Linked DNA regions of Homo sapiens. The protein of the gene in region 1 purifies or fractionates together with the protein of each later gene. This does not show direct contact. Each region holds a gene or a part of one and is shown on either strand. Other genes may lie near its edges. The genes, in order: SLC9A2, SYNM, FBXW8, CDC42BPA, TMF1, ZNF143 and PRICKLE2.

The links.
Region 2: the proteins of SLC9A2 (region 1) and SYNM purify together in Homo sapiens (affinity purification with mass spectrometry; one large-scale study listed by BioGRID and IntAct). This does not show direct contact.
Region 3: the proteins of SLC9A2 (region 1) and FBXW8 purify together in Homo sapiens (affinity purification with mass spectrometry; one large-scale study listed by BioGRID and IntAct). This does not show direct contact.
Region 4: the proteins of SLC9A2 (region 1) and CDC42BPA purify together in Homo sapiens (affinity purification with mass spectrometry; one large-scale study listed by BioGRID and IntAct). This does not show direct contact.
Region 5: the proteins of SLC9A2 (region 1) and TMF1 purify together in Homo sapiens (affinity purification with mass spectrometry; one large-scale study listed by BioGRID and IntAct). This does not show direct contact.
Region 6: the proteins of SLC9A2 (region 1) and ZNF143 purify together in Homo sapiens (affinity purification with mass spectrometry; one large-scale study listed by BioGRID and IntAct). This does not show direct contact.
Region 7: the proteins of SLC9A2 (region 1) and PRICKLE2 purify together in Homo sapiens (affinity purification with mass spectrometry; one large-scale study listed by BioGRID and IntAct). This does not show direct contact.

The regions. Positions count from the first base shown.
Region 1 is NC_000002.12:102,626,053-102,629,552, forward strand, and holds part of SLC9A2 (sodium/hydrogen exchanger 2 precursor), read left to right. Parts: intron 1-3,500.
Region 2 is NC_000015.10:99,125,580-99,129,079, forward strand, and holds part of SYNM (synemin), read left to right. Parts: intron 1-1,142; coding exon 1,143-1,213; intron 1,214-3,500. UniProt on the Homo sapiens protein: Type-VI intermediate filament (IF) which plays an important cytoskeletal role within the muscle cell cytoskeleton.
Region 3 is NC_000012.12:117,025,950-117,028,798, reverse strand, and holds part of FBXW8 (F-box/WD repeat-containing protein 8), read right to left. Parts: intron 1,406-2,849; coding exon 1,295-1,405; intron 772-1,294; coding exon 627-771; 3' UTR 1-626. UniProt on the Homo sapiens protein: Substrate-recognition component of the Cul7-RING(FBXW8) ubiquitin ligase complex, which mediates the ubiquitination and subsequent proteasomal degradation of target proteins.
Region 4 is NC_000001.11:227,028,493-227,031,992, forward strand, and holds part of CDC42BPA (serine/threonine-protein kinase MRCK alpha), read right to left. Parts: intron 3,023-3,500; coding exon 2,806-3,022; intron 1,979-2,805; coding exon 1,916-1,978; intron 759-1,915; coding exon 165-758; intron 1-164. UniProt on the Homo sapiens protein: Serine/threonine-protein kinase which is an important downstream effector of CDC42 and plays a role in the regulation of cytoskeleton reorganization and cell migration. Regulates actin cytoskeletal reorganization via phosphorylation of PPP1R12C and MYL9/MLC2.
Region 5 is NC_000003.12:69,038,834-69,042,333, reverse strand, and holds part of TMF1 (TATA element modulatory factor), read left to right. Parts: intron 1-2,640; coding exon 2,641-2,783; intron 2,784-3,324; coding exon 3,325-3,491; intron 3,492-3,500. UniProt on the Homo sapiens protein: Potential coactivator of the androgen receptor. Mediates STAT3 degradation. May play critical roles in two RAB6-dependent retrograde transport processes: one from endosomes to the Golgi and the other from the Golgi to the ER.
Region 6 is NC_000011.10:9,523,512-9,527,011, forward strand, and holds part of ZNF143 (zinc finger protein 143), read left to right. Parts: intron 1-1,728; coding exon 1,729-1,875; intron 1,876-3,500. UniProt on the Homo sapiens protein: Transcriptional activator. Activates the gene for selenocysteine tRNA (tRNAsec). Binds to the SPH motif of small nuclear RNA (snRNA) gene promoters. Participates in efficient U6 RNA polymerase III transcription via its interaction with CHD8.
Region 7 is NC_000003.12:64,222,667-64,226,621, reverse strand, and holds the start of PRICKLE2 (prickle-like protein 2), read left to right. Parts: upstream 1-1,155; 5' UTR 1,156-1,712; intron 1,713-3,955.

The DNA.
Region 1 (3,500 bases):
GCATTTCTCTGATGGCTACTTTAAAGTTCATATGGAACCAAAAAAGAACCCACATTGCCAAGTCAATCCTAAACCAAAGGAACAAAGCTGGAGGCATCACGCTACCTGACTTCAAACTATACTGCAAGGCTACAGTAACCAAAACAGCATGGTACTGGTACCAAAACAGACATATAGACCAATGGAGCAGAACACAGCCCTCAGAAATAATACCACATATCTACAACTATCTGATCTTTGACAAACCTGACAAAAACAAGAAATGGGGAAAGGATTCCCTATTTAACAAATGGTGCTGGGAAAACTGGCTAGCCATATTTAGAAAGCCAAAGCTGGATCCCTTCCTTACACCTTATACAAAAATTAATTCAAGATGGATTAAAGACTTAAATGTTAGACCTAAAACCATAAAAACCCTAGAAGAAAACCTAGGCAATACCATTCAGGACATAGGCATGGGCAAGGACTTCATGTCTAAAACACCGAAAGCAATGGCAACAAAAGCCAAAATTGACAAATGGGATCTAATTAAACTAAAGAGCTTCTGCACAGCAAAATGAACTACCATCAGAGTGAACAGGCAACCTACAGAGTGGGAGAAAATTTTTGCAATCTGCTCATCTGAAAAAGGGCTAATATCCAGAATCTACAAAGAACTCAAACAAATTTACAAGAAAAAAACATACAACCCCATCAACAAGTGGGCGAAGGATATGAACAGACACTTCTCAAAAGAAGACATTTATGCAGACAACAGACACATGAAAAAATGCTCATCATCACTGGCCATCAGAGAAATAATAGATATTTTTATCACCAAATGAAAATGTTACATTATATCCACTTTAACAATGATAACAATACTCAGCTTTATTTCTTACAGAATTATTTCACCTAGATTGAATCCCTAAGAAGTATACAATGAACTGTTTGCATAAAACCATTTGTTCTGGCTGGGTATTGTAGCTCACAACTGTGATGTCAGCACTTTGTGGGGCTGAGGTGAGAGGATCACTTGAGGCCAGAAGTTTGAGACCAGCCTGGGCAACATAGTGAGGCCCAATCTCTTCAAAATGTTAACAACAACAACAACAACAACAATAACAACAACAAAAAGCCAGGTTTGGTGGCCTGTGCCTTTAGTCCCAGTGACTCAGGAGCTAGTCAGGAGGATCACTTGAGCTCAGGAGTTCAAAGTTACAGTGATCTGCGATGATGCCACTGCACTCCAGTGGGAGTGGGCAAAGACAGATGGAGACCTGCTCTCTTAGAAACAAAAAAAACAAACTGTTCCTTGGGTGATATAAAAACTCACCTGTAAAAGCAAGTGAATTGATGGTTTTGGTATATGGATAGATTTTAACCAGTGAGTCCGTGGCTTTAATGTTTATAGTTTTATTTGGTTTATCTGTGTCTTCTGGGGTCAATTTTGGTAATTTGTATTTTTTATAAAATTATTATTTTGAGTTTTTAAAAATTTATTGGAAGTTATTTTATGATTTAAAAGATCTCCACTTTATATGCATTTATGTTCTCCTTTCTGTTTCTAATATTGTTATGTTTTTCTTTTTTTCACCTTGATCAGGTATGCAGGAGTTTGTCTATTTGATACTTTATCAAAGAATTAGCTTTTGGTTAGCTTCTAAGTTATCTGCTTCTGCTCTTACATTTATGATTTACTTACTTCAGCTTTCTTTGGGTTTATTTATTTAATTAATCCTTGAATTAAAAACTTAACCCATTAATTGTTTGGTTTACTTATGTTCTGTTAATATTGTTAATTCCCGCCTTACAAGAGTAAGAAACACCAATATTTAAAAACATAATTAATATTATTTTCAATAGTTTCTCTGCTGGTATTTTTATGAATCCCTGAGCTCCAAAATTGACATGCACTTATGCTAAAGTGACATCAGTCTTATTAAAATGAACAAAATTACTTCAGTAGCTTACTTACTTATTGAAACTCCTAATAAGACAATTCCCCTTATCAATTTATCCCAAATATGGGTATTTGCTTGTTTTCATTAAATTCAAATCTATGATATACTGTACACTTAAGACTCTGTCACAAACTAAACGTATTCATAATACTCAAAGTTTATGTAAATTCATCTTTAATACAAATAATAATAACAATAAAGAGAATGGTAAAGACAAAAGATATAAGGAAAATTATGCAAATGACATATCAGTTTCTGAATAAATTGCATGATGTCTTTACTGCTGTTAAGTAGGAAACCATGGGTGTTCTGAAAGGATTTCTTAACACAACATACCAATGATAAAACTGGAATGATGACTGCTTTTGATGGATCTCATCTCAGGATGCTCAGAGTCCACAAAATCAGTTTGATCTTCATGGAGCCAAAGGAATGCTTCATGAACTAAAATAGGATTATTCAATGAAACTCTTCTCAAAGATGAATTCTCATGATCCAAATGGGTAAATTTTGGAAGAACGGCAATATATGTATTTAAGGCTAGAAATATACCCCTTTTTTCCTACTTTAATTGTATTGCATAGGTTTGATATGCGGGGTTTCCACTGTCACTCAGCTCTCGGTATTTTTAAACCCCCTTGTGATATTTTATTCTGACTCAATAATTAGTTAGAATTTTACTTCTCAGTTAATAAACTTATGGAGATTTGGGGTTTTTGTTGTCATTGTCAGTTTTAGAGATAGGTTCTCACTATGTTGCCTTGGCCGCTCTCAAACTCCTTAGCTCAAATGATTCTCCCGCCTAAGCCTCCCAAGTAGCTGTAACTATAGGCATGCACCACCATGCCCAGTTGTTTTTTATTTTATTGACATTTTAATGCATTTTGGCTAGATAGGTATAATGCTGATTTTTAGTGTTGATTGTGATATCCTTTATGGCTTATTTTATGGACATTTTAAAACTATATTTTCCATTTATACTTGAAAAAACAATGTGTATTCTCTATTTATTGTGTACAGGATTTTATATACTTAGATGTATACATATGCAGACACATAGAGACTAGGTCAAATTTCTAATTACGGTGTTAAAATCTTCAATAGCATTACCAGTTTTTTGGTTACTTTATCAGTTCCTGGGGTACATTAAAATCACTTCTAAAATTGTGATGTCAATTACCATTTGTAATTGTTTCAATTTTTGCTTTGTTTTGATGCTATGTTATTACATACTCATTCAATATTGTTACATCTCCAGAGTGAGTTCTTCCTTTAATTATTAAGTTTTTAACTTCCTTATTTCCAGTACTTGTGGCTCAAAGTGTATTTTTTCATATAAAACTATTACCATTTAAAAGAAAACTTGATTTTGCGCATGTACTTTTTTTCCATATCTGTTTTCTATATCTACATTTTCCAGATGTATATTTTTATACCTATACTATCAAATGAGTTATGTTATTTTCATTTGGCTAGGCCTCATTAAACCACATAGATCTGGATTTTGCATCTTTAATTTCACATTTTAAAACACCGTAGCTTAAAAAGAGAAATGTA
Region 2 (3,500 bases), on another chromosome or scaffold:
ATGGGGCTCACCATGTTTCAACAGATGGAAATACAACTCAGTGCAGTTTGTCCAAGCTGCCAAGTCCCTGCTCGGGTGTGGGCACCCTGCTCCGTTTTTGTGCCCAGCTCTCAGCCATAAGATTGGCATTTCTCAGTGGGCTCTTGTTCTGGATGCCTTTTGCCGTGTGCAGTGTATTTCTTGGAACCGGAGTTAGTGACTTCACATGTTGCTCTAGCAACTGAGAAACTGTTGCACCCAGAGCTGCCAGCAGCCCAAGGGGTCTTCGCGAGTGACTGGCTGACAGGCATCCCGGTGCTAAGCCCCTCGCCAGCAGGCTGGGTCTGCTGGGACCACTCTCCTCAGCTCTGGGATCTGAAGCAGTAGACGTGAACAACCTAATGAAACTTCTATAATTTTAGAACTTTGGCGCAGACATAGTCAAAGAAATCACCTTGTTGGGTACTTCTCACCATTTTATTAAAGGAGATAACAGGATGCCAATTTGGATGAAGTGAGGCCCCTGGGGGTGGCATGGGGAGGGGCTACTGACGGGGGGCGCTTTAGCACTACCTTTTCCGTCTGCCTGCCTTCTACTTCTTTTTGTCGTCTCCAAGGTGACCCCCTGGAATGCAGTTTGAAACCACAGATGCAGTCTGGCTGCCTTATAAGTGTCAGTCCCTGCCGTCTCCTGGTCAGCCCTCTGCAAGCTGCCCCCACCAGCTGTGACTCCAGGAAGAACCCAGTGGGGGGTGTAGCTGCTCTGGGGCCCTCTAGCCTGGGGCCCACATCTCTCCAGTGCCCCCTTGCTCCTGCTCCTCTTCACCCTGGACTGAGAAAGCTTTCTAGAAGGGCTTGGCTCGCCAGTACTGCCGAAGCCCTGGCCTGGTCATTTTGTTCACTGGGCTAGTAGGGGTTGAGCGCCATGCTGGCTGCCAGGGATGTGGCGGTGAGCAGAGCAGGTGGCCTGGCCCAGGTCTGCTGAGGCTGGTGGGTGGGCTTGCCAGCCCTATGGTGCAGCCCTGCCCAAGTCTCCTCTTCAGGTAGAAGTCCTAAAACAGGTGACACTATGGTCATTGGCCGCATACCACGATACGTTTTATTAGAGGCACTTCTTACTCTTTCGTTTCCTAATGAATTATGTTTGTAAATTATTTTTACAGGGCCTTATTGGAAGGAGAAAGTAATCCAGAGATAGTGATCTGGGCTGAGCACGTTGAAAACATGCCGTCAGGTAAGTAAAAGCTAATGACTTGACTTAGCTTTAGGCATCTGAACTGTTTATTCTGTGGCTAGATAGTAAAGCACCATCATCGGGAAGAACGGGTTAGATATGGTGTTTAGATAACAGGAGTTCATCTCTCATTTAAGTACCAAATAGATTTTAGTTTAGTGTGACATAATTTCAATTATGTGAATGAGAATGTTTGGGAAGGTGCTTGATAAACTTGGTCCCTCTCTCGACAGGATGCAGGAGCGGAAGGGGCTAATGGCACTGGGCAGTGTGAGGGCGAGCAGGAGTGCACCTGAACTTGTGTTTCACACCCCTGGAAGGGACACTCCTTCCATTTCCAGACCAAGGGGTTATGGTTGTTACACCTGTAGAGGGAGGTATGGCCTTGGATGGCAGGCAGGCAGCACTCTGGAACCTGCTACCCTAACAGGAAGAGAGATGGGAATAGTTACATTGTTTACACCACCCTAGGTTGTTGTGAGCAGCTCAGGAAAATGTGTCCTGGTGCCTTGAAGACTACCTTATTGAGGCCAAGAGCCTCAGGACAGGGCCCATCCTTCCTATGGCTGCAGAACTGACATAAGATCATTAATGTTCATTAGAAAGATCCTAAGAAACTGAGGGATAACTTGTTTTTTAACCTTTTAAAGCCCTATAGAATCTTGAAGAGCTCTGGCTAAGCAAGTGTCGATTAAATTACGTATAGAATGTTGAGTTCACACCTTAGGCAGCAGCATGGTTTTAGTCTTCATTGTTTCTTTTAGGCAACTCATGGATTTGACATGTCACTGGGTTGAGAAGAATATTTGGGTTCTAGTCATCTATAACTGGAAGGGATCTGGTCTTAGACAACATGCAGCAAATTTTCTTTCTAATTTTGAGAGTAAGTTTGAAAAAAGCAAAGGTGTTCATGGAAGGGTAGGCATTGGTCAACCTGCCTGGCATCAGTTAACGTGTGACATCTATAAAACAAGAATTAACTCCCCAGATTTCAAGGTTTACTTAGTTACCTACATTTTTAACCTGTGGATACCTAAGTTTGGACATCCATCATGTAACCTAGAGAGAGGGGAGAAGGAAGAAAAGGGCCCAGGAGCTCCGAGGAAGACCAACAGTCTAAGCCAGGGCCTTGCTCAAATTTTCCCAGTTGTGATTTTGGGGCCGAGGGAGAGCACACAGAGGGGCTAACAGCTGTTGCTGTTAACTTGCTTCATTCATTCATTCATTCATTCATTCATTCATTATTTTTCAAGCTTCTTGAAGGAAATAGAGACTTAATATTTGTAAACTAAATTTATTCTGGCAATTACATATTATGCCAAAAGCTTTAGAATAAAAATTACTAGTTGGGAATTTTTATTAGACGTTGAGCTTCTAGATAGTTCTGTTCTGTTGAGTAAATATACAGATAAGTTCCTAAGTAGTGAACTTATCAATACTTGTTAGTGTGCTTGTGTTTCTTTTATAATATTGCATAAAATAATGTTGGCCGCTTGCCCGCTAGCCGGTGGACCTAAACCCAGTCTGTAATCTTCCATGTTTCTTGTTGAATCTTAACTGTAAATGAGATGGTCCCTGCACTATTGCCTGGGGGTTCATCTTCTGGGACTTCTCAGTTGGATCAGTAGGATCAGTTGACCTGAAAAGAGGAGTCTTGTAGAAAATGTCCTGGCCTGGTCTCTTTCCTGTATCTTGGGATCTGTGCAAAGGAGGCCTCTGGCCTTGGCTCCATAAGGGAGAGAGAAAGCCCTGTCCCCGCTGAGCCAGCTGGGGTGTGGGTAGACACCAGGGGCACTCTCGGGGTGGACGGTGCTCCTGGCTGCGTTCTAACCACCAGCTGCCATTCCTAAAGAGCGGTTTCCCCTGCTGGGGTGTGGACACCCCAAAGGGTAGCACTGTCTGCAAACAGCCTGGAGCAAAGCTGGAAGCCCTGAGGACTGCCTCCCAACTTCAGGATCATGACACTAAGACAGACCGGGGTGTTTCTGCACTGGCTCCTTTTCAGATAAGTGTTAAATGTAAAATAAAAGATCAGAAAGCTTAAAGAAGTTAAATTCTTTAATACTTGTTGGCCCAATATGGAAATCAGTGAAACAGAAGAGTATATTAAATAGTGGAGGATAATGCTATTTGGTGTTTAATAATGACACACTTTGTAATTACAGAGCTCTTCTCTGCTACAGTAAATTAAACTTACCTCAAAAAGCAGAAATTAATGATTTCAAAATATAAGATTGTGAAATTTCAGCCACAAAAACGAGCACCTCTGACCTCTCTGGGATATGCA
Region 3 (2,849 bases), on another chromosome or scaffold:
TATCATAGACACAATAGTAAGCAAAATAGTCATTGATGACTAAACTGTATAAGTATATAATTATAAACCATGGTAAAAGCTGTGAAGAAAAAGTACAGCTCTACCAGCTTGCTACTGGAAGGTGGTGGTGGCAAGTGTCACAGAAGAGCACCCCAAGTAAATACAGGGAAAAGGACATGGAGGTTATTGCCTTGGAGGCCAGGAACAAGCACATCCAAAGGCCCTCGGAGGAAAAGAGGTAAGGGGCTGGAGACGGAAAAGACGGCCTGCAGGGCTGGAGCTGGGAGGGCGGACACACAGAAGCTGGCTAAGCAGGGACCGTATAGGACCGCGCAGCGAGATCCCTGAGGCGTCCTGAGGGAGCTGAGGCCAGGGTGGCCAGCTGGGTGGGGAAGGAGGCTATGTTTGAGTTGGCAGCACGTGGGACTCGAGCCCTGGCACACGCCAGCTTGCCCCAGGCGCTGGGGGAAGTGCAGGGGTCAGGGAGATGCGTGCTGTCAGGCATGGCACCCTGGGCTGCTTTCTTCCCCTAAATGTTTACCACCTGTGAAGAGGTGCCTGGCGTTTTAAGATGGATAAAACTGGTTCTTCCCATTTTTCTCCTTGCTCCCAACTGAGGCACATCCCTAAACATGGTTATAGGGAAAGGCCAGTGCGAGGTCGTAGTAGTGAGTGGCCATGGCGTCACAGGATGAACGGCAGACAGGGAGAGGGCTCTGGAAGGCCAGCTGGTCCACCGCAAACTCATAGGCGCGGATCAGCCCCCGGTGTCTAGAAAGAGCACAAAGATGGTGACAGGTCAGGGCTGCCTCGCTGGCCCTCACCCCAGCCGCTTCTGTCTGTGCAGGAGGCGTTCGCCTGAGACCAGATAGAGGTTCAGCTTCACAAACGCGTTCTCTGGGCACACAGCGTCAGATACTCACAGTCCCCGGCTTAGCGGTCAACGTGGGGGTGCACAAGTCCGATGGGCGCAGTGAGTGTCACAGGGCAAGGACTCAAGAGGGCGGGCCTTGCCCCTGACAGGATTCTAACCACAGCAGGCCCCTCAGCATACGGCTTGCCCTCCCTCTCTGTACAGCCGACAGCGTGGACTCGCCCCACGGGGCTGTCCTGCATCAGATGCTGGGTGCTCAGTACAGGTCAGCATCCACGTTTATGTTTCCAATTCGCAGAAAGGCAGGGCCCTGCCTGAGGGTATAGCCCATAGGGTGCAATGTGTCACGGCGGGGGGGGTGGGGTTCTATACATCAGTCAAACTAAGATGGTCTCTTACTCGCCCGGCCCCACCACTAACCTCCTGTGAGTAGTGAAGCTGTCCAGGTCGGCGTTTCGCATTACCGTCTGGTAAGGCACGTTGGCCGTGATGAGGCTGTGGCTGCTGAATGAGATGTGCTGCACCGGGTGCCTGGAAGGCAGTGGGAGAGAGCTCGTAAGGGGGCGTCCACTGGGCCTGCACTTGCTGCCGCAGGCCTGGGAGTTCAGAGCTGCAGGGGATTCTAGAACCCATAAAGCTAAGCTTCTCTTTCACAGAGGGAACAGGGCCCCCATGGAAGCAGTGTCTCACCTCAGTTCCCGAAGCTCAGGTGAGCAGGCCACGCTTTGGGCATGACTTTGTAAACAGGTCTGCATGCCCCGTACGCATGCTGGCATCTGCCCCCACAACCTGGTACATTCCAGACATAAAGGGCACACCCTACTGCAGACGAATCAGCCACATGCAACAGAGACTGGCCCATCGCTGCCTCCCTGGGCAAGTCCCTTGAGCTTTCCCAGCCAGGCTCTCCATCATCTATGGAGCACTGGGGGCACGTTCACTGTTGATCCATGAAGGTGCCCCCCACATCCTGCTCATAGGGCTGCAATGACACACGTACCCTGGGTGGTGAAAGCACGTTCGGAAAATCTTGGAACAAAATGGTTCCAAGTCTCTTGAACAGAGGTTTGCGTTCATTCTGAAACTTTCATGCAGTACCGGCTGTGGTCACGGCACTGAGCTAGGAGACACTGGATTAAAAAGATGTCTCATCCAGGTGGATGCCTGGCCCAGGGAGAGCCCTAGCTAGTGAAGAAGGTAAGATGCAGTCCCAGAAAACATGACCATTGTTTCTGTAGCACGAGCGATGTTACAAGCTACAAAGAATGTGTGACCCAGAGTTAAGTGCTGGGAGGAGCAGGAGGTGCTGTGGGCTGGGAGGGGTGCACAGGAGGGGACGAGGCCTGTGTGGGCTGGGCCAGGGCTGCTCTCCTTGACTAAAGCAAAGGATTCTTGGAAGTGAGGGAAGCTGGGAAGCAGTCCCTGCCTCCCTGGGGTTGGGACACCCACAGAAGGAAAGTGTTGGTGGACCTGGCATGGGACCTGGAGGATGAGAAAGACCCGGGAAGGGAGGGCAGGCTTGGTGGAGGCCTGCAGCCTGGAGGACTGAAGGAAAGTGTTGGTGGACCTGGCATGGGACCTGGAGGATGAGAAAGACCCGGGGAGGGAGGGCAGGCTTGGTGGAGGCCTGCAGCCTGGAGGACTGAAGGAAAGTGTTGGTGGACCTGGCATGGGACCTGGAGGATGAGAAAGACCCGGGGAGGGAGGGCAGGCTTGGTGGAGGCCTGCAGCCTGGAGGACTGACGGCACCCTGTCAGGCAGGCGAGGACCTGGGCTGAAGAGACTGAAGCGGACAGCGGGAGGTACATGACAGTGACCAAACAACAGCCAGACTGGGGCCTGGCAGCAGGCACTGCAGGTGAGGCCTTGAGCAAGTCAGTGAGTTCTGGGCAGGAGACCATGTGTCTGTCAGCCTTGTGCTGGTGAAAACAGTGACCACGTGGGGGACAAGCCTGGACCGCACAGGGACAGAGGC
Region 4 (3,500 bases), on another chromosome or scaffold:
CATATGGTTTTTACATCAACAACATAATCAATACTGAGGAAAAGCATTAAGAATGACTTTTTTAAAAAACTGTTATCAACAATGACAACATTTGGGAGACGAAGTAGAAGGGAAAAGGAAGAAGAGATATAAAGATAAGACAGCCGTAAGAAAGAGAATCTTACAACAAGAGGAAGGATTTGCTGGCCACATCAATTCCTGTTGTCTAGATCTTCGGCCCTGGCAGTCAGTGTATATCCCAATGCTGTTAAAACACAGCAGATATTCTTTACTGGAGATCTCAACTGCGCAGATAGCATCCATTGGTTGATGTGCAATAAATGATAGTGTATGGTCATTTGAATGGAGCATACTGTATGGATTTCCTTCTCCATTCAAGGGGTATCTTAGAAATCCTGACTGGAATCCCACACAGAGTTGTTCACTGAAGATTGCCATCCACTGGACATTATATGGGACTTGAATTTCTTTAAATTTTCTGTGACGGGTCTTGCTCTGAAATAGTTCATAACAGAGGACCTGCCTTTTCATAGCCACACACAGGCATGTGAGAGCTCCATGGCGCACCTTTCCAGAAGTTACGGTTTGACACCCTTTAGTTTCTGACAGCTTGTAAAAATCGGTCTCTCGCCCATCCAATGCTGACATAGGAAAAAGTCGTACATGACGATTTCGTCCTGAGATCACAGCAACAAGCTGATCATTTGGAATGAGTTCAATCTGATGAATCTTCTTATTGTCACCAACTCTAATAATTTCTAAACACAGAAAGAATAATAAATCAAAATATAGTTTTATTGATTAATCATATCCCAATTATACTCAAAAGGATGTAAGTCAACTTACAGATGCACATACGGAAGAATAAGACATCAGAAGTCACAGGAAAAAAAGATTATCCAACCCATCATAAGATAATTTAACTCACCTATAGTACGTATTAAATTTGAGTCCTGAGATTTCTGGCAGCCAAGGCAAACCCCAAAGGATTCTTGTGTAAAAGTATGCCAAATCTTCAAGGAAACTTTTCTACTGGCACTAAATTCTAGGGAACGTCACCATAGGATTCCCATTTTTAAAAACAGAGAACTTATTTTTCAGAAGTTTTTATATGGCTAACAATGCATTGTTTTCCCATGATCTAAGTTGACATAAAGATAAAACTTAGAATACTGTATTTATGAATACCAAGTTATATTGGTTTCTCTTTATTTCACCCAGCATTTAGTTTTTCCCTAGAAGAAAAACCTCCAAACAAACACATTTTAATAGCTGTTGCCTCTTCTGGTACTAATAGAACAATGTGAAAATCAAGTTGTATATATTTTTTTTCATGTTCCATCTTTAGAAATGCAATCTGGGCTGGGCGCAGTGGCTCATGCTTATAATCTCAGCACTTTGGGAGGCCAAGGCGGGTGGATCACCTGAGGTTGGGAGTTCGAGACCAACCTGGCCAACATGGAGAAACCTCATCTCTACTAAAAATACAAAATTAGCCGGGCGTGGTGGTGCATGCCTGTAATCCCAGCTACTGGGAGGCTGAGGCAGGAGAATCTCTTGAACCCAGGAGGCGGAGGCTGCAATGAGCCGAGTTCGTGCCACTGCACTCCAGCCTGGGCAGCAAGAGTGAAACTCTGTCTCCAAAAAAAAAAAAAGAAATGCAATCTGAGTTCGTACAGAACTGTTAAATAAAATGATACAAGAAAGACAATACATATTTGAAGTTTTAAACCTCAGGGGGATTATAGAAATTTAAAAATAATCTTTTAATTTATAAACGTCAAATTAGGTCTGGAAAATTTTAGTCGCAGGATAAATAAGAGCAAATCCTGCTCTTTGTAGAATTTAGAATCTACAGTTTAAATTTTTTTAACACGATTTAAAATTACTCCAAAAAAAAAAAGTTTTCTCTTACCATCTTTGGTGACATGTACAACAAATAACCCTTCTTCGTTTCCCAAAGCAATTCTTTCATGATCTATGTAAGACATGAATGTGAAAGATTTTTATTAGGAAAAAAACCATGTAATGCTAATAAACCAGATGATAAGAACATTTGGTGCAAAAAATGGAAATAAAATGAATTACAATAACAGTTTACACTATTTCCTTTCAGATTATACTGGTAAATCTCTCATGTCTTCTAAAATAGAACAATTATTAAAGAATAATCCATATCAATACTTACAAAAAGAAGTAAATGTTTAATAAATGATGAAACAAAATGAAAAACCTAAGTTGTTCTACACTTATTGTTTTGGGAGGTAAAAATTGTGAATGGCATTTGAACCATACTCATTGAACTTTTCAGTATTTATGGAAAGTAACAAAAGAGTTAGATGCATACACAGGAATACAGCAAAAATTTAAACCTCCAGACACAGAAACTGCCATTTGTTAAGGGGATTTCTTTCTTATGCAGGGCACTCTGTGTTATGTATTCCATCTTATTTAAACTTCCCAATAACCTCAGCAAGGTAATTACCATCTGTATTTTATATATTAAACTCTAAGAAACTAACTTGTTCTAAATCACACAAGCAGAAAATAGATTAGTAGGCTAATGCTTAGCACTGTTGTTTTTTCAGGAAAAAAAAGGCACTTTGAAAGTGTATTTATACTCCTGTTTACTGAAAAACAAAGATCTGATATAGGTCTCATTCATTCAGTAAACATGTACTGAGCATTTATGATATGATGCACAGTATGTTGGACACTGGGGATTCCTAGATGAAAGCCAATCCCTGTTCTCAAGGTAGATTAGTAAACAATGATAATAATATGATAAATGTTATAAATTCATACCTATGATTGCGGCTGCCTGGGTTGTTTTAATGAGGGGTAGAGTGCTGTCATAAGCCTCTTTGGGAACATAGACTGAGCGGTCTCTGAATTTGTTTTTCTTCAAAATCTTGTGCAATTCACTCAGCACTCCCACCCACTTATTCTTCTCATTCTCAGTGTCTGCTAGCATCAGGATTGAACATTTGTTATTAGATGCTGAGAGCTGGGAAGCTGTGACCTAGAACAATTTAATCAATATTCATGATATTAGAAAACAGACACCCTTTATGCTAGTTTCATGATTATGTTAGTTTGCTTAGCACTCACCAATAAAATAAGCATTCATTAAATGATACCATTACTGGAGTTCAGCTATTCCTAATCAGAATAACTACCTTTAGCACTAGAATACATGACAAAGCAAAGGTGGCAGACACCATTTGAAATGTTAGTATCATTTTCATTTTCCTTCTGTAAAAGTGCCAGAACACTATCACTAAAGAGGCATTAAATATATAACAACAACAACAACAACTGACATTTATTGAGTAAATACTGAGCACCAGGTAGATCTAAGCACTTTACAAGTATTAACTCATTTAACTCTGTTAACATCGTCATGATTTAGGATGTACTGTCATTATATCCTTATTTTATATATGAAAAAAATGGTGATGCAAAGAAATTAAATCATTTCTCCAAGGACATACAACTAC
Region 5 (3,500 bases), on another chromosome or scaffold:
GAGTGTGGTGGCTTATGACTGTAATCTCAGCACTTGGGGAGGCAGAGGTGGGTGGATCATTTAAGGTCAGGAGTTCGAGACAAGCCTGGCCAACATGGTGAAACCCCGTCTCTACTAAAAATACAAAAATTAGCCGGGTGGTGGTGGTGCGTGCCTCTAATCCCAGCTACTCAGGAGGCTGAGGCAGGAGGATTGCTTGAGCCTGGGAGGTGGAGGTTGCAGTGAGCCAAGATCACGCCACTGTACTGCAGCCTGGGCGACAGAGTGAGACTTTGTCTCAAAAAAATAAATAAATAAAATAAAATTAATAGCATTACAGAAATTAAAGATCTATTCATGAAATAAATCATTACAAATGGATACTGAATTAATTTCTTCATGTAATATCCTGGGAGAGAGGAGCCTTTGGAAAACGTGGTCAAGTGAATCTCTCTTTTTATTTCTCTTGTTAATTAAAGTTTTTGTAGTTATAAGAGTAATACTTGCTACTTGTAGAAAGTTTTGAAGTTATAGGAAAGTATATGAATAAAGAGGAAAAGTAGATTATAATCCAATATTATAAGGAACTATTAATTTTTTCTAGTTTTAATGTATTTTTTAATGCATTTTTAAACATATTTAAGATCATATATTTAATTTCCAATCTTCCTTCTCTTACATCTCTCTATGCCATTAAATGCTTTTTATCATTATTAGTGGCTGTATTAAAGTCCATTATATGGGTATACCATAATATGTTTTACTATTTCTAGTGTTGTACATTTATTTTTATAATGTTAATAATATAGTTAGTGGTAGGATGAATGTTTTTGTGCTTAAATCACTGAACTTAAGTAAATTTCCAGAGAAAGGGTAGCGTTTGAGAACAGTTGGAAGCAGTCATTTCATTTGAAAGTTAGCTTTATCCAACTTTTTCATTTATTCAACTAATATTTATTGAACGGTTAGTATGTCAGATACTATGTTTGATACAATAATAAGTATGACACTCTGTCCTTTAGGGGCTTAGTTCAGTGAGAGGGAAATATAGGAACACAGATAATGATAAAACACAATTCTAAGCACTAAAATAGAAAAATGAAGGAACTGTTGTTATAATTATTTTCTCAAGATGTCTTGAAGTCATTAACTGCCTTGCCTTACAATATCAGAGACTGAGGGGAAGGCTAACTGCATGGTTTTCTTATTTTAAAAGAGTTATTTGAAATATTAATATCGAATGTTATTATTTTGTAATTTAATAATTTTGTCAGAGAATGAACTGATGTCTTCTTTTGCTTAATGAACCTTTTTACAGAGAAAATAGAGCAATTTCACATGGGAGTATTTTATATTCACAGAGTATTTACATTTCACAAAAGGGTATTATATATTGTTTCCGCGTGCCCCAGAAAAATTTTTTTTTTTTTTTTGAAACAGAGTCTCACTGTGTTGTCCAGGCTGGAGTACAGTGGCATGATCCCGGCTCACTGCAACCTCCGCCTCCCAGGTTCAAGCAATTCTCCTGCCTCAGCCTCCCGAATAGCTGAGACTATAGCTACCTGCCACCACGCCTAGCTAGTTTTTGTATTTTTAGTAGAGATGGGGTTTCACCATGTTGGCCAGGCTGGTCTTGAACTCCTGACCTCTGGTGATCCGCCTGCTTCCCAAAAGTGCTGGGATTACAGGCGTGAGCCACTGCACCCGGCCAGTATTTTTAAAACTTAAAGCTAAAGAGCTGTAAAACTCAAAGCTGAAAGCACACTACAATGAATACCTGATTACTTCATCACCTAGATTCATCAGGTGTTAACATCTTGCCACAACTCTTCCATATCTTTCTGCACATACATACACTACCCTTTTGTCAACTCATTTGAAAGGAGGTTACAAATACCGTAACATTCTGCTCCTAAATTCTTCAGTCTACATCTCCCAAGGGCAAGTACGTTTTCCTTGACAGGTACATCATAGTCAAACCTAAGAAATCAGCATTAATTCAGAAGTGTAATCCAGCATATATTTTAATATTAATCCTAGTTGTCTCTAAAAGTGTCTGTTATAATTGATCATTTGTTCTGCCCCAGGATCCAAAGTTTGCCCATTGCATTTGATTGTTATGTCCTTTTAGTCTTCCATCAGTCTAGGACAGTTCTCTCTTCTTTATGTCTTTGAGGACTCTGTAGAGTCTAGGGCAGTTGTCCCACAGGATGTCCCACCCATGTTCGGGAATTTGTTACTTTCTTCATGATGAGATTTAAATTAGATTTAGTTCATATTTCTAGTAGGAAATATCTGGGTGATATTGAACAACTATATCACATCAGCAGACACATATTGTCAGGCTGTACTACAATTGGTGATGCCAAAACTGAATGCTTAGTTAAGGAGTTGACTGCCAGATTTTTCTCTTTAAAATTAGTAGGTGATATATGAGAGTGATTCTTTAAGACCGTGTCAATATCCAGTTCCCAACAACCTTTTACCCAATAATTTTAACATTCATTGATGATTGCTGTCCAAATTAGTTGTAACATTGTGGGTTACAAAATTGTAATTTAAAAAAATTCTGTTCTTTTATGTTACTATTAGATAAAACATTCTATTGAGATTTTTAGGGAATAGTTATCATTTGAGTTTATACTTCTTTACCATCACCAGGAGAAAAACTTTCAAAACAGCAGCTGCACAATTCTAACATCATCAAGAAATTAAGAGCTAAAGACAAGGAGAATGAAAATATGGTTGCAAAGCTGAACAAAAAAGTTAAAGAGCTAGAAGAGGAGTTGCAGCATTTGAAACAGGTGAATAGCAATCATAATTCTCTACATATATATTGTTATTACTTCCTGTATGAACAGTTGGCCATGGTTATGGAGCATTTGAAAAGATTTAATGGGGTATATCATGTAAGAAGGATTTTTCAAACAATAGATAAATGATAAGATTTTTTAGCCGAGTGGGGTGGCTCACGCCTGTAATCCCAACACTTTCGGAGGCTGCGACAGGCAGATCACTTGAGGCCAGGAGTTTGAGATCAGCCCGGTCAACAAGGCGAAACCCTGTCTCTGCTAAAAATACTGCACCAACCTAATACAAAAATTAGCCGGGCGTGGTGGTGCACATCTGTAGTCCCAGCTACTTGGGAGGCTAAGGCACGAAAATTGCCTGAAGCTGGGAGGCAGAGGTTGCAGTGAGCCAGAACATTCCACCCTGGGCAATAGAGCGAGACTTTGTCTCAAAAAAATATATATTTTTCTCCATTATTATAGATTCCTGGAATACAGTTATTTACCATGGTATTATTTCTTGAAAAATACTTTTGTCTGTTTTTATAACATATAGGTCCTTGATGGCAAAGAAGAGGTTGAGAAACAACATAGAGAAAATATTAAAAAACTAAATTCCATGGTAGAACGCCAAGAGAAAGATCTTGGCCGTCTTCAGGTAGACATGGATGAACTTGAAGAAAAGAACCGAAGTATTCAGGCTGCCCTGGATAGTGCATACAAGTAAGAAAA
Region 6 (3,500 bases), on another chromosome or scaffold:
TCACGAGGTCAGGAGATCGAGACCATCCTGGCTAACACGGTGAAACCCCGTGTCTACTAAAAAATACAAAAAATTAGCTGGGCGTGATGGCGGGCGCCTGTAGTCCCAGCTACTCGGGAGGCTGAGGCAGGAGAATGGCGTGAACCCGGGAGGCGGAGCTTGCAGTGAGCCAAGACGGCGCCACTGCACTCCAGCCTGGGCGACAAAGTGAGACTCCGTCTCAAAAAATATATAATAATAATAATTATTATTCTGGCTGGGCGCGGGGGCTCACGTCTGTAATCCCAGCGCTTTGGGAGGCCGAGGCGGGTGGATCGCCTGAGGTCAGGAGTTCGAGACCAGCCTGACCAACTTGGAGAAACCCTGTTTCTACTAAAAATACAAAAATTAGCCGAGTGAGGTGCCGCATGCCTGTAATCCCAGCTACTCGGGAGGCTGAGGCAGAAGAATCGCTTGAACCTGGGAGGCAGAGTTTGCAGTGAGCTGAGATCAAGCCATTGCATTCCAGCTTGGGCGACAGAGCGAGACTACCTCAAAAAAAAAAAAAAAAAAAAGGATTTGAGGACAGTTTATACAAAGATTTGGGGGCTTCCCACTCAAATTCTTTGCTTTCTGGGCTATTCTTCTCTGTACTGCTATTCTGGCAGCCCTGGACTCCATTATCTTTAACCTTAAGTTGCCCCAGGCTGCTCAAACTGGGTAGTGCCCTCAGTGTGAAATCTATTTAAACACAGATATAACACAGTGTGACTCCCTTCTTTTGAGAATCCCCTCTAGTTTCTTCCTGCTTGTCATTGCTCCTCAAAGCCTTCATATAGTTGCTTTTTCATATTTTTGTCAAGGGTTTATAATTGTTATCTGCAGGAAGGTTAGCCCAATATAAGCTACTTAGACATTGCTGGAATGAAATCTGTTTTTCTTATAGAATTAGGGAACATTATTGGGATTGATCCAAGCTAAATATCTATTAGCTTAAAATGTAGCATTTTTAGTGGATGAATAGCCAAGTAAAACAGCAGTTTTCATTTTTAATCTATTCTTTCTCTGAATTTGGCTGAGTAAAATTTTAGAATATCATCTAACAGAAATAGTTAATTGCCATTTTCCATGTTATCTGCATTTTTTTAAAAAGTTGTACTTGTGGTATAAGAGCCACAAAAGCCCTTTTAATCCTCCTGGCTAGATGCTGCAAGAGGAGTATGGGAAGATTCCATGGAGTCTAAAATGGGAAATGAGTATGAGATGAGATGCTGTTTGTCAGTAGTACCACTGGTCCTTTCAGTTTTCCTAGTTAAATGGAAATCTAATTTTAAATACGACAAGTAAAGAGGAAAAAAATCATTTATTTTCTCCTATGAGCCAATCTCAGGAAAAAAAAATGGACATTTGAGGTGCAAATTAGTCCACATACATAACTTCCCAAGCAGTCACTTAGGGGTAATAGAATCTAGGTACAGCCACATCTCCCTGGCTAATGGGGCCTGGCATAGCAGATCCATTTCTCCAGTGTTCTCTACCCTATTTTGCCGTTGGCTCACTTCATAACCTTAGATAATGAGCCTCAACTTCCTCAAATAAACCTCCTTTCAATATAGGCTTTGACAAGTCTATGGTCAGAGGAGTTTTTCCTTTTCAATTTGAAGAAATCCATTGTATTAAGTGGACTTTAACCTATTTAAATCGCAGGTTTAATTCTTTATGTGTATGGTTTGTTTTGTTTTGCTTAAGGTTGCAATTGTAGCTCAAGACTTGGCAGCATTCCATACTGCCTCATCAGAAATGGGGCACCAGCAGCATAGCCATCACTTAGTAACCACAGAAACCAGACCTCTGACCTTAGTAGCAACATCCAATGGCACCCAGATTGCAGTTCAGGTGAGTACCAAGGCATACTGTCCTCAGTCGACAGCAGTGCTGCTCATAGCTTTCAACTTTGTACACTGTGCTTCGTGTATAACCTTTACAGGAGGCAAGGTGTAGAATAATCTCTATCACCTAGCCTACTTTAAGGAAATCGGTGTATTTGAGGTGGACTCAAAAAGACCAGCACTTTGTTCTCTACCCATCTTTGCATATTCTAGGGGAATTTATAGCAAGAAAAAAAACCTTCAGGTATATATCCCTGTGTGCACCCACCCAGGCATCTTTACTCTCAAAATAAAAGTCTAATTAGGCAGGGGTCTGTAAAGCACTTAAGAGCTACTCCTTAGAGAAAAACCTAGTGGAAACACAAATCCTAAATAAGTCCTCTGAGAATCCTTGCACAGCCCCCATTTTAAAGTGGGGAATGTCAGAAGACTTAGAAGGAATCATTCTCTGGGAAGCAGAGAATTTAGAATCTTAGGTGCAGCCGGGCATGGTGGCTCATCCCTATAATCCTAGCACTTTGGGAGGCTGAGACAGGTAGGTAGCTTGAGCTTAGGAATTAGAGACCAGCCTGGGCAACATGGTGAAAACCATCACTACAAAAAACACAAAAATTAGCTGGGTGTGGTGACGGCTGCCTGTAGTGCCCAGCTACTTGGGGGGTGCTGAGGCAGGAGGATTACTTGTACCCAGGAGATTTGAGGCTGCAGTGAGCCAAGATTGTGCCACTGCACTCCCGCCTGGGTAACAAATGAGACCCCATCTCAAAAAATAAGAGACCAGCCCAGGCAACATGACGAAACCCCATCTCTACAAAAATACAAAAATTAGCCAGGTGTGGTGGTGTGCACCTGTAGTCCCAGCTACTCAGGTGGCTGAGGTGGAAGGATCACTTGAGCAAGGGAGGTTGAGGCTGCAGTGAGCCAAGATCGCACCACTGTACTCCAGCCTGGGCAACAGAGCGAGACCCTGTCTCAAAAAAAAAATTAGAATGTAAAGTAAAATAGAATCCTAGGGGCTAGGTGCAGATTACCTGTCCTTAGGGAGATTTTTTTTCCGCCCACGTGTTTACTTGATAAAGAGTTAGAACACACTCCAGGAAATGTCAGCTGTTGGCTTTATGTAGTTTATGGGTATAGAAGCTAAAGGCTCAAGAAGCTCTCTTTTGTTGGCTGAGGTAAGCATCTTTTGTCTCTTGCATGTATGAATTTTTTTTTTTTTTAGTTTTTATTTATGTAAAAATAAATAGAGATGGGGTCTCACTATGTTGCTCAGGCTGGTCTTGAACTCCTGGGCTCAAGTGATCCTCCTGCCTCAGCCTCCCAAAGTGCTACGATTATAGTCATGAGCCACCATGGCCAGACTGTATGAAGATTTTATCAAAATCCCAAGTAAATTGCAGGCCAGGCACGGCAGGCTGGGAGTACAGGTGCACGCTGCCATGCGCAGCTAATTTTTGTTTTTTGAGACGGAGTCTCGCTCTGTCACCCAGGCTGGAGTGCAGTGGCACCATCTTGGCTCACTGCAAGCTCCGCCTCCTGGGTTCATGCCATTCTCCTCCCTCAGCCTCCCCAGTAGCTGGGACTACAGGCACCCATCACCACGCCCAGCAATTTTTTTTTTGTATTTTTTAG
Region 7 (3,955 bases), on another chromosome or scaffold:
ATATTGTGTTAATCTTCACCATAGTTCTATTCAATATTTTACTTTCTTTAATTGCAGTAGCCCATAAGGCCCTTGAAAGCAGAGACTGTGTTTATACCTAGCCTTTAGAGCTGTGCATGGCATAGAGTACGTGCTTAGTAAATATTTATTGAATGAGTGAATGGTACAGATGAGGTTATTGAAGATCCCACAAGTTAAGTTACTTGCCTAAGATCACACTGCTAGCAGGAAGGAAAGGCAGGATTTGAACACAGGGCTCTCCAAATGTATAGATTCCTTTCTTCCAGATTGCTTGGTTAGGCCGCCTAGTGGTGTATAAAAATGGAGCTCGGAGACCCCAAAGGTATTCAACAAAAGCTCTATCTGAGGTCTAGGAAATGTGGATTCTGACCCATCCTTGCTGAAATCCTGGTGTGACTTTAGAAAAGTCCTTTCTCCAGTTGTCTCCATTTTCTAATCTGTAAAATGAGGAGATGGAAGCAATGCTCTCTGAGGGTCTCAGGGTCTTCAGATGCCCTGGGAAGGTTTATGCTTTGTCTTCTTCTGCATGCAGTTGGAATTGGGGTAAGGGGTTAAAGGGCAGCTGACTGACTCACCACCCAAGCACGTGAGGAAAGGAGTCACTTGTGCTTTATTTCGAGGTGCACAAAAACTCAAAGGTGACATAGTCTCAGGCCAAAAAACAAGCAACACCCGAAAATGAAAGTTGAAGAGAGAAGAGAAAGAAAAAAAAAAAGGAGAGGCATTTTTGAAGGCTTGACACAGCATTTAATTAAAAAAAGAGTGCTCTGATTCCACTCCTAGGTTGGTGCAGCATATAATCTGAAACAGGCGCTCAGGTTGATAATTGTGCCCAGATCTGAACCTTGGCACCTAAGAGCACAGCTTTTAAGAAGAAAAAAAATAGGCATGTGTCTTTAAAGCCTCTCTTCTTATATGTGATTTTTTTCATGCTCATTTGGAGGTTACGTAGCTGGGCCTTTGCATCCAGCAAAGGCTTCCTTCCCCTCTCCCTGGCTTGGGGATTATTGATTTGGAAGGCAAGGCTAATTTACATGTAAATAAATCTCAGCACTGGGCAGCAGGATGGGACGTCCAGATGCCGTGACTGACTTGCTGACATCACAGCTTCATTAGCATGCGGAGGATGCAAGCACTGCAACAGCGACTTCTCAGGCACCACCAGCAGCGCCACCGAGAGTTATTATTATTTTTTGACCAAGCAGCACATTTCCTGGTTCAGTGGCTTGAGCTCTGTGAGCAGCTGACTAGTCACCCCGGGTCTGGCTCAGGATCAGCTGGTGACGCTGGGCTGGAGTCTATGACTTCTTCCTTCAGATTGTCATGAAGAAGGGGAGTTAAGAGGAAACTGGGGGTCCTCCGGAAGGCGATCTGAGCACTCAGGCTGATCTAGAGGAAGAGTAGAAGTCATACTTTTTTTCTCTTGCTTGGTGAATTCCCCAGCAGAGTCTGGATCCAGCAGTGCTGTTTTCCCTGAGGGAATGTGGAGCAGCTCGGCTTGAGTCTGTTGCCAGCTTCAGGAAGGGTTCAGACTGAAAAGGGGGTTTGAGGAGAAGATGCTTTGGCTGCCTGAGGTCCTGCTTGCGTTCTTAGAAGTCAGATCCAGGGAGAAAGTGAACTGGGACAATTGACAAGCTCCAAGGGTCTGGCAGAAGCTTCCTCCGAGACTGGGCATTTCATCCTCCCTGGAGGTGGGTAAGAAATTTGCTCTAATTCACAAATTAAACAGCAGTATATTTTCTAAGGAGGATGAGAAAGCCAGATCTAGGGCCTTTGCACTGGGGGAGGATATTGGGTCTTCGTTTTCTTGGCCAGGTAGCATTTTTGGTGGCCCTGCGACCCCTTTTGCCTTTTCTATGCTGATTAGAAAGCTCGATTACAAAGTGTTATGTCACAGCTCTAGGGAGTCCTGAAGAAACGCTTAAATCTTGATGCTTAAGAAGAAGCAGCGTTTCTCTAAAAGTGTAGCTTTCTTTAAAAAACCATAATAATATGGGGAAAGGGGCTAACAGACCAAATACCTGATAGCGTTCATGTACAGTAGTCATTTCAACACATGATGTCAGAAACCATTAGGGGATCTGAGGAACAAGGACTCAGCTGAGACTTCCAGGTAAAGAAATGGCTTTCAAATTATTTAGGTTTAATTTTAGACACTGCTTTCAGATTAGAAATGGTGACAGAGCTTCAGAATATGACTGCATAGCCTGGCTGAACACATGATTCGGTTTGCCCTCTATGCTGGGTTTCTTGAGGGAGTGATCATAGTTAGTTCTCCTCACTCTTGGCTTCTCGAAAACCAATCATAGCATTACTAATTTGCCATGGGGGTCTTGCAATGAAATACAGATTTTTAATCCCATGGTTTTTTGTTATGTGGTCTTGGACTATGCTGGGGTCCAGTGGGACTTTTATGAATCATAAATAATCCAGGCTGGGCCAAATCACACTGAGGTTAGCGATCCATACCAGATGTGATGCCATCCGCTGGTCCAAATGTGGCTCTTGTCTAACTTAGGCACATAGATTATTTCCCCAGTGAGAGAGTTCTGCTTCCCATATCAATGCATGTATGAGCACAGTCAGGGGAGGGCTCCAGTGTGCCATGAATATGTAGACATAGACTGCCGTGTACTGAATCTGCAGCTGGTAAGGCTGTGATTTGCTTTGCCTGCACATCTCTTCCCAAAGAGTGTTTTAAACCATCTCAGTGAGACTTAAACTAAATGAAGCAGCCTTGCCTCTTTGCTAGAGGCCAAATTGGCTGCTGTAATCCTGCTCCTCAGAAGGCTTACTGCCTGCTGATGGCTTTCACAGATGGGTCAGGATGAGGGTCCCCAAGGGCTCCAGAGTAAGTCACAACTTTGACATAATTACCATATTTTGGAAATTTGGATTTTAATGCCTTGAGTGCTTATAAAGGTTTTGCCTTTCCATCAAATGCTCCTTCCCCTTGGGAATTCTGTTTTTCATGTGAAAATTAAAACATACTGGCTCCATCGGGCATCTCAGTCTATAAAGATTCACGGGGCAGCCAGAAAGAGTAAAATAGCATTGTTTGAAATGGTGTGTTTATAAAGATTTACCCATGAAATGTGAGGGAATAAAATAGAAATAGAGGAAGAAAGATGCATTTATGGAAGCTTAAAGAATGAGAAGGGAACTTAGAGGTTAGATAGTATGAGATGATATTTATCCAGGGCTCAGACTCTGGAGCTGGAAAGAGCTGAAGATACTTAAAGCTACCCATTCCTGCCAGTAAAGTGGAGAGAGCAATGGAATCTATAGTTAGGGTGATAGGTGTAAGGATTTAATGAGATGACCTATGCAGAGCACAGTGGCAGCCACATAGTAAATATTCAGTAAATATTAGCTGCTATTGTTGTTGTTGTTGTTGTCATTGTTACCATTTTGTCATTATCATTATAAGTGTTGTTGCTAAAAAACAGTATTGAAAAGGCAACATGTTCACATCCATTTGCCTGCAGAAAGGTTTTGCTAGCAGAAAAGATGCCATCTCTGGTACTGTTATATCCAAATGATTCCCACTCAAAGAAACTTTCCACCCTATTGATTGAGTTGACAGAATAAAGTATATTATCCAGAACTACTGTATTTCACAGAACTGAAAGTGACCAGCTGGTATAATGAAAATCATTTAGAACTAACTGGGGCTTAGGCAGCCTTAAAGAAGGCATCCTGTTTTGGCAGCTGACAAGTCACATGTAGAAAGCTGCGGGGTCCCAGTTGGAATCAATGCATTTCTAGATTTCTCTTCTGCTTCACCTATGCATGTGAGAGACAGTCCTTTTCTTTCTTAATTCTTTTCAGTGCAGATATTGAGCATTTTCTTCTCTATCCAGGGAGGCCATTGAATATGTGCTTAACCTGCTGGTTGGCTCCTCAGAAGTTCCAAGGCTGAATTTTTGCCACC